4 separate regions of the Homo sapiens genome follow, and regions 1, 2 and 4 are each reported to be linked to region 3. Evidence: microRNA targets listed by miRTarBase, many of them from high-throughput screens and not tested one by one. Region 3 holds a microRNA gene; each other region holds the end of a gene's coding sequence.
The links. Region 3 holds the annotated microRNA hsa-miR-4270 (UCAGGGAGUCAGGGGAGGGC, at 1,923-1,942, opposite strand). A microRNA usually pairs through its seed, bases 2 to 8, with sites in the 3' UTR of a target mRNA and lowers its output. Matches are read on the target gene's strand: a 7mer-m8 pairs with bases 2 to 8, a 7mer-A1 pairs with bases 2 to 7 and ends in A, and an 8mer does both.

Region 1: miRTarBase lists CES2 as a target of hsa-miR-4270. Seed matches in the 3' UTR shown: 7mer-m8 at 2,479-2,485, 7mer-m8 at 1,561-1,567 and 7mer-A1 at 1,450-1,456.
Region 2: miRTarBase lists ASXL1 as a target of hsa-miR-4270. Seed matches in the 3' UTR shown: 7mer-m8 at 1,004-1,010 and 7mer-m8 at 1,369-1,375.
Region 4: the mRNA of INAFM1 is a reported target of hsa-miR-4270. Seed matches in the 3' UTR shown: 8mer at 2,252-2,259.

What each region holds. Positions count from the first base shown.
Region 1 is chr16:66,943,511-66,946,510 of GRCh38, reverse strand. It overlaps CES2 (carboxylesterase 2), which reads right to left. Exons shown (of 12, transcript NM_001365405.1): 12 at 1,415-2,672. The coding sequence ends at 2,486. Among named protein-coding and RNA genes, the nearest start is that of CES2, 9.5 kb to the right of the region's middle.
Region 2 is chr20:32,436,734-32,439,844 of GRCh38, forward strand. It overlaps ASXL1 (ASXL transcriptional regulator 1), which reads left to right. Exons shown (of 13, transcript NM_015338.6): 13 at 1-2,586. The coding sequence ends at 605. Among named protein-coding and RNA genes, the nearest start is that of ASXL1, 80 kb to the left of the region's middle.
Region 3 is chr3:15,494,357-15,497,468 of GRCh38, forward strand. MIR4270 (microRNA 4270) reads right to left here and starts at 1,952; the gene lies at 1,883-1,952. The region is part of intron 1 of COLQ (collagen like tail subunit of asymmetric acetylcholinesterase); the gene reads right to left.
Region 4 is chr19:47,274,796-47,277,907 of GRCh38, reverse strand. INAFM1 (InaF motif containing 1) reads right to left here and starts at 3,023. Exons shown (of 1, transcript NM_178511.6): 1 at 2,185-3,023. The coding sequence starts at 2,988. The coding sequence ends at 2,560. It also overlaps a transcript of CCDC9 not described here. RefSeq lists a silencer at 2,652-3,101.

The sequences.
Region 1 (3,000 bases), not on the chromosome of region 3:
CTGCCACCACACCCGTCTAATTTTTGTATTTTAGTAGAGATGGGGTTTCACTATGTTGGCCAGGCTGGTCTTGAACTCCTGACCTCAGGTCATACCCCACCTTGGCCTCCCAAAGTGCTGGGATTACAGGTGTGAGCCACCGCACCTGGCCTGAGGTTGCCATCTATTAACCAGAGAACAAGTCCTTGCCAGACACCAAATCTGCTGGCACCTTGATCCTCGATGTCCAAGCCTCGAGAACTGTAAGCAATACATTTCTGTCATTATAAGGCACCCAGTTTATAATATTAACCTGTAGTATTTTAAGTTTTATATCAGTATTGGAAGCCCTATTTTTTTGAGGCAGGGTCTTGCTGTGTTGCCCAGGCTGGAGTGTAGTGGTGCAATCACGACTCACTGCAGCTCTGACCTCCCAGGCTCAAGTGATCTGCCCGCCTCAGCCTCCTGAGTAACTGAGACTATAGGTGTGTGCCACCACATCCAAATAATTTTTCTATTTTTTTGTAGAGATGACATTTCTCCATGCTGCCTAGGCTGGTCTGGAACTCCTGGGCTCAAGTTCAGGAGTCCCACCTCGGCCTCCAATAGTGCTGGGATTACAGGCATGAGCCACTGCACCCGGCCTAACCGGTAATATTTATTTATTTGTTTATTTATTTATTTACTTATTTTTGAGGTAGGGTCTCTGTCGCCCAGACTGGAGTGCAGTGGTGCAATCTCAGCTCACTGCAACTTCTACCTCCTGGGTTCATGTTATACTCGTGTCTCAGCCTCCCGAGTAGCTGATATTCTAGGTGTGCACCACAGAGCCTGGCTAATTTTTGTCTTTTTAGTAGAGACAGCGTTTCACCATGTTGGCCAGGCTGGTCTCAAACTCCTGGGGTCAAGTGATCCACCCACCTCGGCCTCCCAAAGTGTTGTGATGATGGGTGTGGGCCACTGCACCGGGTCTAATCGGTAGTATTTTTGCTATAGCAACTGAATGGACTAAAACACTAGGAATTCCAGTAACCAGGTTTCCTATTGGCCACTCACAGATTTTTTTTGTTTTTTGTTTTTGTTTCTTTGTTTGTTTGTTTGAGACTGAGTCTCGTCCTGTGGCCCAGGCAGGAGTGCCGTGGTGCAATCTCATCTCACTGCAACCTCTGCCTCCCGGGTTCAAGGGATTCTCCTGCCTCAGCCTCCCTAGTAGCTGGGACTACAGGCGTGTGCCACTGCACCAGGCTAATTTTTTGTACTTTTAGTAGAGACGGAGTTTCACCATGCTAGCCAGGATGGTCTCGATCTCCTGATGTGGTGATCCGCCTACCTTGGCCTCCCAAAATGCTGGGATTACAGGTGTGAGCCACCGCACCCGGCCTGGCCACTCACAGATGTAAGAGCACTTGGGGCTTGGGGAGAGGCAGACAGAGGCTTTTTTTAGAATTTATTTTTATTCTTTCAGACCTCTCAGGGATGAACGGACATAGGCTTCTAACACTTAGGTGTGGGCAACATTCTTCGAAGCACCTCCCTCAAAGTGGAAAAGGCCTGGGGGCTCAGACGAGAGAAGAGAGAAGGCAGGGAGAAGGTGGAGGTGAGGAAGGGAGGAGGGGGCCCAGGGCTCAGTGGGGTGTTGGGGAGGGTGGGATTCCACCGGGGTTTGCCCATCCACAGCTCAGTGGGGGGATCTATGGAGTGTGTCTAGCAAGAGAGGACCCATGGCAGGCTTGGTAACTAACATCATGCAGTAGCTTCTTCTATTCTCTCTTATTTTTTTGGAAACGGAGTCTCGCTCTTGTTGCCCAGGCTGGAGTACAGTGGCACAATCTCAGCTCACTGCAACCTCTGCCTCCCAGGTTCAAGTAATTCTCCTGCCTCAGCCTCCTGAGTAGCTGGGATCACAGGTGGGCACCACCACTGTGCCCGTCTGATTTTTGTATTTTTCATAGAGATGGGGTTTCACCACGTTGGGCAGGCTGGTCTCAAACTCCTGTCCTCAGGTGTTCTGCTCACCTTGACCTCCCAAAAGTGCTGGGATTAGGGGCATGAGCCACAGTGCCTGGCCTATTATTCTCTTTTTATTTTTATTTTTCTCATATTTTTCCCTTATATTTTGTTTTCTTTGCTTTTTAAAAATCTTTTTTACTCCTCACTGACTTGAAGCTCAAAACTTTCCTATTTAGCTTCTAATCACACACTCTCTCTTTTTTTTTTTTTTTTTTGAGAAGGGGTCTCACTGTGTTGCCCTGGCTGGTCGGTCTCAAACCTCTGGCCTCAAGCCATCCTCCCATCTCATCCTTCCCAATAGCTGGGATTACAAGTATGGGCCATCATGCCTGAGTAAATTCTTAATAAATGCTTTCTGAATGGATGGACGGAAGTATGAATGAATGGCGAAGTGAATGAAGGAATCAACTTCTTTCTCCTTAGTGGGTGTGTGTGGGCACAGCAGGCTGACCCTCGCCTGTCAGCGAACCCACCCCCTCCTCCCCGGCACAGGGAGCTACAGCTCTGTGTGTCTCTCTTCAGGCTCCTCGAGCTCCTGGATCTTTTGGGGCAGCGCCTTCTTCCAGAACTGGAGCCTGTGGGCCTTCAGAGCCCGGCCCACCGCAGGCTGTAGGTTCAGCTGCAGGTATTGCTCCTCCTGGTCGAACAGCGGCCAGTGTGGCAGACCCTCGCCATTGGGGTTCCTGTAGACATGCCATCCCAGCAGGGCAGTATGAGGGTCACTCTGGGCCCCCGAAGCCCAGACCTGAGCACCCTGAGTCTGGTCAGGCAAGGCAGCCAAGCAGGCCAGGTGGGCTTGGGGAATGAGTGGGGAGGCTTCCAGAAACAGGAAATAAGCTCCCTCTGGCTAGTGTCAGCACCAGTGGGGGTTGGGGGAGGGCAGCCAGCTCTGTTGTGTCCCTCTCTCTGAGAGGGAGGCCCTGACGGTGGCACAGCACTGGCGCCCACCCTCCAGGTAGACTGGAGAGATAGAGCGTGTCCACTGCCCCACGCACCCCCACCCTGTCTGAG
Region 2 (3,111 bases), not on the chromosome of region 3:
GCACAAACTCCATGTCTGGTGGGGTACAGACTCCAAGGGAAGACTGGGCTCCAAAGCCACATGCCTTTGTTGGCAGCGTCAAGAATGAGAAGACTTTTGTGGGGGGTCCTCTTAAGGCAAATGCCGAGAACAGGAAAGCTACTGGGCATAGTCCCCTGGAACTGGTGGGTCACTTGGAAGGGATGCCCTTTGTCATGGACTTGCCCTTCTGGAAATTACCCCGAGAGCCAGGGAAGGGGCTCAGTGAGCCTCTGGAGCCTTCTTCTCTCCCCTCCCAACTCAGCATCAAGCAGGCATTTTATGGGAAGCTTTCTAAACTCCAACTGAGTTCCACCAGCTTTAATTATTCCTCTAGCTCTCCCACCTTTCCCAAAGGCCTTGCTGGAAGTGTGGTGCAGCTGAGCCACAAAGCAAACTTTGGTGCGAGCCACAGTGCATCACTTTCCTTGCAAATGTTCACTGACAGCAGCACGGTGGAAAGCATCTCGCTCCAGTGTGCGTGCAGCCTGAAAGCCATGATCATGTGCCAAGGCTGCGGTGCGTTCTGTCACGATGACTGTATTGGACCCTCAAAGCTCTGTGTATTGTGCCTTGTGGTGAGATAATAAATTATGGCCATGGGAAACATTGTATATTTAGTGTGTGTATTTTGATAATGATTGATCTTAAATCTGTATACAGAATATCATTGATATAATACTCTTTAGGCAGGAGCACTCTTGCCTTCCCCCAAAATTTACACTGCTAAAGCCCTCTGTCACTTGGCGACCCTTCTGGTCTTGCTGGAGGGGTTTCCTGGGTATAACCCATTGGGCTGCCCAAGGCCAGCCAGCCTGAGCTCTCCTGCAAGACAGAGCCTGATGTGGCACGGAGTGGGGTTGCGGGGGGTGGGGGGACTGCCTGACTCCCAGAGGGACTTGAAACTGAAGCAAGAAGGTTGCATTCTCCACCAAGGGAGTTAACCTACCTGAACTAAGTAGAAATGCCAGTCTTCCACTACCCCCTCCCTGCCATCTTTTCTTCTGCTACTTTGGGGAGTTGATGGCCAGGAAAGAAGCCAGCACAGGGTTAAAGTAACTCCTGGCATTGCCCACCAGGGGGCTGGTGCACCTGCTGACCTCAGGGTCACAGTTGAGTCATTTGCCAGTTGACGGAGCAAGTTTGACCTTGGTTCTGTTGCTGAAGCAAATTTGGAACTTTTCTGTCTCAGTGTGATCCACTAACCCACAGGATCATTTGGAACCTTGAATAGCTCTGCTTGGACAATGGGGTTGGGGAATAGGGTTGTCTTTCCTATGAAAATGCCATCTGTAGACCTTGTGAGTCAGCCGTCCAGATGTTTGCAGGTGAATTCCTCTGCTTGACATCCTCCCTGTCACTTTGGACCCTATGGGAGTGGGCATCTCCACGCACCTGTGTATGTGAAAGTCATTTTACATTTCAAAGCAGTGTGTGTTTCTTATTTTTATATTTTTAACTCTTTATTCTTGGATGTATAAAGTGAACTTTTTGGCTTCTGTAAGTATGCTCTATGCACCTCTAATGTTTTATCATGTATTTATATGTTGTACACAGTACTGGCTGATTCTGTAAATGGATGTATTGTACAGAGAACATGAACGTCTCTTCCTAATTTTACATCTTCAGCATCATTGCATTAAAGTGGTGTAATCTCCTTCTCTACATCTGTTGTCAGAGCCACTGAGTGCTGTGCTGCTCGACGTGAGGGTGAAATGATTGACTTGTGACCTGCCAGGTTGCCCGATGCCCTGTTGGGTCACCGGCTGGACCTGCTGCAGCCTGCAGAGCCACAGTCAGCCTGCCCACATGCCACCGAGCAAACGCATCTTGCTTTTCACATCTCTCCTCCTACAGCCTTAATGGCTGCTTGCTGCCATATGTGACAAATCACCACCACCAGTGTTAAGTGCTTCTGGATTCATGGGTGAGTTCCCTGGGCAGCCCCCAGGAAGGCCTTCCAGATCTGGCTCCAGGGTCACCACCTGTCACAGCAATACCTGGGACCATGCTCTCCTGGGACTGTGAGGCTCCTTTTGACGTACTTTTGACATCAGGCAGGTTTGGGAAGAAACAAAGCCATGCCTGCTCCTGCCTCTCTCCCAACATGTTTCCAGCAAGTAGATGCCCCTGTGTGTGTTTTCCCTTGCCTTGTTTCCTGCCTTATATCTTGTATTTCGACTTATTACAGAGTTGAGGGTTCTTGCTTAATTTAGATCAAGTATAAAATTTGTATGACTTCAAGTCTCATTTTATCTGAAAGGTTTTTTTCTCATTTAATCTGATGTGGCATTTTCGTCATCTGAAGCATGAGTGACAAGTTGGGAATGATGTGGTGATTTAGAATGCAGTATTGGCCAAGTCCAAGTTGTCAACTTAAGCGTCTGTTTACCAAAGACCGGGAACAGGGGCCCAAACATGTCCAGTCCTCTTCTTCCCTCTGCTGGAACCTTTGGGGACACTCAAGGGTACAGTTTGACACTGATCTGGTCCATGAGGCTGCCCAGAGAAAGCACTGCTTCTGTATGTCTCTTGTGGTATTGGAACAATAAACCCGTACAACCTGCAGTTGTGGTCTCAGTCATCTGTGGCTGCCTCGCTGGTGTGGGAAGGTCAGCTGGAGTGCTGAGCTGGAAGGGAAGGAGTAGACGCCAGCTCTCCTCACCTTGGCTCTGGAGCTACTCTTCTTATACTTGGAGCTCTTCTTTTGGGAGGTTAGTCCAAAAGGAATGACTTGGCAGCTTCACTGGTCTTTAGCCATTCATGACTTGGCGGACTTCACCACATAGACTGCAGTCAGCGTTCTACTGAGAGCAATGAGAATGTTTCCCCTTGGGAGTGCGAGTCACAAACTGTGACATCCCTCTGCAGCAACTCATCCAAACAGCTTCACTGAGGTTGAGGTTGCCAAGTGGCTTCCTAATGGTTAGTGGTCTTCTGTGGGAGGGTGACTAGCTCTAACCTTGGAAAACCTTAACCACAAGCACCTCTTTCTGTAGCCTCTGGTGGCAGTGAGAGGAAGGTGCTGGCCCAGGGTGGGGTGTCTGATGCTAGTTGCGTGAGCCTGAGTAGACGACGTGCTTCAGGGATTGA
Region 3 (3,112 bases):
ATGTTGCAGGAGGGAAGAAGCAGGAAGAATCAAGGGTGGTTTTGAAGTTGCAGGGTACCCAGGGCAACAGTGGTCAGAGTTTGAGAAAGAAAAGTCACAGCAGGCACTAGTTTATGGGTGTTAGACATTTATTCATTTGAGCACACTCTTTGCCAGGCACTGGGCCAGGCCTGTGGGAAGCAGAAAGTACCTAAATGGCATCTGTAGTTGGAAAGGCTTGCAGAGCTCAGAGGCCTTCTGCTTGTACCCCACTCCCTGCCCTCCCACAAGCAGCCTCCACTAGATGCCGTCTCCACCAGGAAGCTTTCCTTGACTTCCCAGGCAAGATTGAGTGGCCCTGCTGTTTTTCTCTGGGTTTACCCCTATGTTAGGTTTCCTCCATGGGGAAAAACTATTTCCTTGTATCCCTCTGACCAAACTGTGCTTTCTGGGAGAGCAGGAGCCAGCTTTTATCCCCAGGGTCTAGCACTGTATCTGGCATATGCTAGACACTCCACAAACGTTTGCTGAATTAATAATGACAAACACCACATGCAAGGCACCATTTAAGTGATTCACACATAGAAATTCACCTAATCCTCACAGCAACCCTAAGAGCTAGGTACTACTCTTGTTATCATCATCTCCATTTTACAGATCCATTAACTGAGGCAAAGAGGTTAAGCAATTTGTCCGAAGTCATATAGCTAGTAAGTGACAGAGCCAGGCAGTCTGGTTCCGGAGCCCTTCCTCTTGAGCTCTACACCATGACTGCATGTGGTAGAAATGAAGGTCTGGAGCTTCAAGTCCCATAACAACAACTTGGGGCTATAGCATCAGTGCCCTCCAAGCAAAGGCTTCAGGGAACCAAGCTGGGTTTATTGACTCACTGCAAAGAGGGAGAACACACACCGGAAGGAACCGTGGGGCATCTCAGTTAGAGGATGCTGGGAAGGACTGATCCTAGGGTTGGGGATTTTGCTAAGTGATGGAGGGGAGACTGAGGAAATGAAGTCTGGCTTCACTCTGAATTGGATGCCATCAGGAAGAAAGGGCCATTCTATAATTGAGTACCTTAATTCATATCTAGAAGAGAGTGGAGCAAGACCAAAGCTGTGATTGGTTTTTTAAACAGCAGCAATCACTCATATTAGCAAGGATAGGAGAATGTTTAGTTACTTTTGTGGTTGGATGATAGTCCTGTTTTCGTCTGTGTTCAGTTGTGATTATCAAGTGATTCTTACTTTCTTCTCAATCCATCAAGGTCACAGGGTGACCCTGTCTGAAGTTGGTGTTCTGTGACATCGCTTCTGTGTTGCAAAACACCATGCCGAGCTCTGAGAGTCAGGGCAGCTCCAGCTGTCACGGGCTACTTTTCTCAGTGGTAAAATAATATGGATACATTGTTCCCGAACTTGACATTAATGCCAATGTATTCCTCCTCAAGCTTCTCCAAGTTTCCTAGAGTGTTGAGTCGCTAGGAGTGGGCAGCTTCAGTTGTAGGGTGGAGGAGGCTGGCAGGTTCACACCAATCCCGGAACGTTTTTAAGGTCCCCTGGCTACAGTTTCTCCTTTGCTTCTCTTTTGCCTCAGCACACAGCTAAGGGCTGAGGCTGCAGTGTTCCAAAAGCACCTGGGAGGCTGGCAGGCCCACACTGCTAATATGCACTCATCACCATTATTTTTCCAGACCATATATGGCCTCCAGTGCCTTCCTTCACCCAGCACCCTGTGTGGCCTTCCACTGATGAAGGACCTTGTATCATTTAAAGCAATCACTTCTCTCCTTTCTTCCTGGAAATTGGAGACCTCTTCAGTGACCACAAATTATCAGCTGCATTTCTGGCTGAGGCTTCTGCATTGTTCGGCTCCCCCACCCCATCCCCCTCACCCTTTCCCCCTTGACCCACTTTCTTCCCAGCAGGGGAAGGCCATCTATTTCTGCCCTCCCCTGACTCCCTGAAGCTATTTGTTTTTAGGAGCCTAGTTTATTTACAGCTCATTCCTGTTCAGAATATTTCCATCAGGTGGACGTGTTTGGGAGCAGCTTCCCCCTCCCTCCTCCCTCCCAGTCAACTAAGCCAGGACTTCACATGTCTATTTTGGTGTCATCCGAGTGGCCTGTGGGTCTTTCTCATGGACTGTCTCTATAGAATTGTGTCTGAGCTCAGGCTCCAGTCTGGAAAAGCCCCGGAAGGCTCTGTTGTATTGAAAGCAATCCTGTGCGTATCTCCGTGGAGCCTGCAGAAACCTGGGAGCAGCACGTGGCTCAGCACCAGGCAGCTGCCTTGGAAATGCCAACCATCACGGAACTTCAGGACCGCATGTCCCAACTTAAAGACATCAAGCTCATGTTGTATGTGGCCAGTGCATTGCCAAATTATGGGTAATTGTTTAATGCAGGCTTTGGCAAGTGTTTGAAGCTTTTGTTGTCGATGATGCTGGTTTTGCCCTTTGGACTCAATACCCATTCTTGAAAAGGAGACTTTCTCTTGTTTCATTTCAAGAAACTGAGGCACATCTTTGGAAAGCGATTTTCTCCAATTTACTCTTGGAAAGACATGGATTTGATTAAAGAGTGTTAAGTCTAGGTGCAAGTGGCCATGTGAGCCAGTACAACTCACTTACTCAATCTGAAACTTAGTTTCCTCATCTGTACCACAAAGAGTTTTGCCCAAATCATCTCCAAAGTCCTTTTGCCTTTTTTTTTTTTTTTTTTTTTTTTTGAGACGAAGTCTCACTCTATTGCCCAGGCTGGAGTGCAGTGGTGGGTTCTCAGCCCACTGCAACCTCCGCCTCCAGGGTTCAAGCCACTCTCATGCCTCAGTCTCCTGAGCAGCTGGGATTACAGGCGAGTGCCACCATGCCTGGCTAATTTTTGTATTTTTACTAGAGATGGGGTTTTGTCATGTTGGCCAGGCTGGTCTTGAACTCCTGACCTCAGGTGATCCGCCCACCTCAGCCTCTCAAAGTGTTGGGATTACAGGCATGAGCCACTGCACCTGGCCTCCTTTAGTCCCTTTTTAAAATAAGTATGACACCAGAACCACCACTGTATCCATCTTCATCTACCCTCTTGCAAGGCCAGCCCCACAATAGGTTACTGGAAATAGCCATTTCCATTTCTGCCTTC
Region 4 (3,112 bases), not on the chromosome of region 3:
GGGAACCGAAATGGAGAGGCCCCTCCCTCAAACTCACCATTTGCTGGTGGCCAGGGCTTTGGACTGACTTGCTATCCCCAGAGGATCCCAGCTGGGGCTTTTAAACCCTGAGGGACAGAGGTGGTGGAGAGAGAGAACATGTGACATCGTTCTCAGGGCTTGAGATCACCAGTTTATTTATTCCTCAGAGCAAGTCTATGAAGAAGTACCATTAGCATCTTCATTCTACAGAACCACAGAGGCAGGGCCAGGCACAGTGGCTCATGCCTATAATTCCAGGGCTTTGGGAAGCCAAGGTAGGAAAATCACTTAAGCCCAGGAGTTCAAGACCAGCCTGGCTAACATAGTGTGAAACCCCATTTCTATTAAACAAACAAACAAAAAATGCTTAAAAATTTTAAATAAGTTATAAGGCTGGGTGCAGTGGCTCACGCCTGTAATCCCAGCACTTTGGGAGGCCAAAGTGGGCAAATCACCTTAGGTCAGGAATTTGAGACCAGCCTGACCAACATGATGAAACCTCGTCTCTACTAAAAATACAAAAATTAGCCAGGCGTGGTGGCGGGCGCCTGTAATCCCAGCTACTCAGGAGGCTGAAGCAGGAGAATGGCATGAACCCAGGAGGCGGAGCTTGCAGTGAGCCGACATTGCACCACTGCACTCCAGCCTGAGCGACAGAGCAAGACTCCGTCTCAAAAGAAAAAAAAAAAAAAGAAACAGAGGCCGGGTGTGGTGGCTCATGCCTGTAATCCCAGAATTTTGGGAGGCCCAAGTGGGCAAATCACGAGGTCAGGAGTTCGAGACCAGCCTGGCCAACATGGTGAAACCGCGTCTCTACTAAAAAATACAAAAATTAGCCAGGCGTGGTGGCAGGGGCCTTAATCCCAGCTACTTGAGAGGCAGAGACAGGAGAATTGTTTGAACCTGGGAGGTGGAGGTTGCAGTGAGCAGAGATCGAGCCATTGCACTCAAGCGTGGGGGACAAGAGTGAGACTTCTCTCAAAATAAAAATAATAAAAAATAAAAATACAAAAAAAAAATTAGCTGGGTGTGGTGGTGGGCACCTGTAATCCCAGCTACTCAGGAGGTTGAGGCAGGAGACTCACCTGAACCAGAAGGCGGAGGTTGCAGTGAGCAAGATCATGCCACTGCACTCCAGCCTGGGCAACAGTGCAAGACTCCATCTCAAAAAAAAAAAAAAAGAAACACAGAGGTCAAGTGACCTGCCCAAAGTCACACAGTTTGTAATGAGAGGAGCTGGAATTTGAACCCGAGTAGTCTCGCCCCAGTCAGTGCCCCTAACTATCACCTATGCTGACTACAAAGAAGTGCTGGCTTCCTAGATTCCCCTTCACAACCACCCTCTGGGGAGTGGTGGTGGGGTAAAGGGGAGGTGAGCAGAGCAGCTGACCTTCCTAACCACCTCCACAGATCTCCAGGAGCCACAGCGTGGGAGAAGATGCTCAGCCTCACTCTCCTGGGAAGGCCTCCAGCTCAAGCGGGGAGGCTGGACAGGAACCAGCTTCCTGCATGTCAGATCCCAGGCCCTGTCCAGAGCCAGGCCTCAGTCTTCCAGGATGGAACATGGCCTCCCCACCTCGGACTCCTTGCCCAGAAGCTAGACCTCAGTTTCCCGGCCTTGGTTTCCTAGCAGCGCCCCAGGCCAGAGGCTGCACCAGTCTTCCAAGGCAGCACAGCGCTTTGGTCATTGGCTCTGAGATTTCCAGACAGGCTGAGAAGCAACACCACCGCCGCCGCCATCCACTCTCATCTCTCTGACCCCAGGAAGTGGGCCAGCATCGTTCCCTCTCGGCAGCCAACTGAGATCCCTGGGTGATTCAGCCTCTGTCCCTGACATGATAATTACACCAACAGCAATTCCCAGAACCCCAGCTATTGTCCTATATCACCCCACCCCTCCTCTTGTCTCCTGTGCTGTAACACGAGGGCAGACACTCTGCTTCTCCCCAGAGACATTTGTCCTTTGCTCCAAGCACACAAAAAACTGGGAAGCCCTTCCCACTGTCTGACCTTCAAAGGCCCTGCTGCTGCTAAGCTGCTTCTCCCTACTCCAAGAAAAGAAGAGCTCCTTAAGGAAGGGGAACAGCCCACCCGGGACAAAACAGACAAAGGCCACACCCCAGGAAGGTCTTTCCCACACAAACTTGGGAGGGGAGGCATCTCTGCAGACAACAGGACAGACACAGCACGAGGCAGCCGAGGCTGTCGTTTATTGCAGATGGACACGGATTCAGGGAGGTGAAGAGGCAGATGGGCTGTGGGCTCTGTGCTCAGCATCCCACAGCAGGAGGGGCAGGAGACAGAGCTCAGGATGGGATCTTCCTGATGGTGGAGGACCCGGCCTGACCACAGAGTAGCTGCAAGAGGCAAGGCCCCGAGCTGACACCCCCTGGGCCCCCATTCCGCGGGATGACGGCTCCAGAGACGCTGAGCGATGTCATTAGGAAGAAGGCCGGACCAATCCAGAGACGGTGCATCCTCGGCGTGGAGCACAGAGCTCTCGAGGGCTGGCGATCCGGGTTGGGGTGGAAGGGAGAGTTACCCGGGTCTTCGCCCCTCCGCGGCCTCTGGCGTCTCTCTGGGTGTCTGGCGGCTCGGACGGCGGTCAGGGTCGCTGTAGCGGCGGCGGCGGCTCAGCGGCAGCTGGAGCTGGGGTCGCGGCCCGCCGGGGACTCCCAGGAGGCAGGAGAGGGAGGCAGCGGCGGGCGCCGGGACAGGCGGCACGCCCGGGCGGGCAGCACACGGAGGGGACGGCGCGCTGGGCTGTGGGCCGGCGGGTGCCGCGGGAGACCGCGTGGGTACCCAGATGAGACCGTAGTACACGGCGAGCAGCACGGCAGCTAGCGAGACGCAGAGGAAGTAGGCGCATACCGGAGCCAAGCGCAGCCAGCGCCCCCGCGGGCCCTCGCTCAGCCCCGCGCCTCCGGGGCTCTCGGCGCCGCCGCCCACGCAGCTGGTCCCCCGCATCCCCGCAGCCCACTCGGCTCCGCGCCGCAGACCGCACAGGCCCCGCCCCCACCAGGCCCCGCCCCCACCCCGCAGACCGCCCCGCTCTCTAAACCGCCCGCCTCCGGCCCCGCCCCCGCCAGCA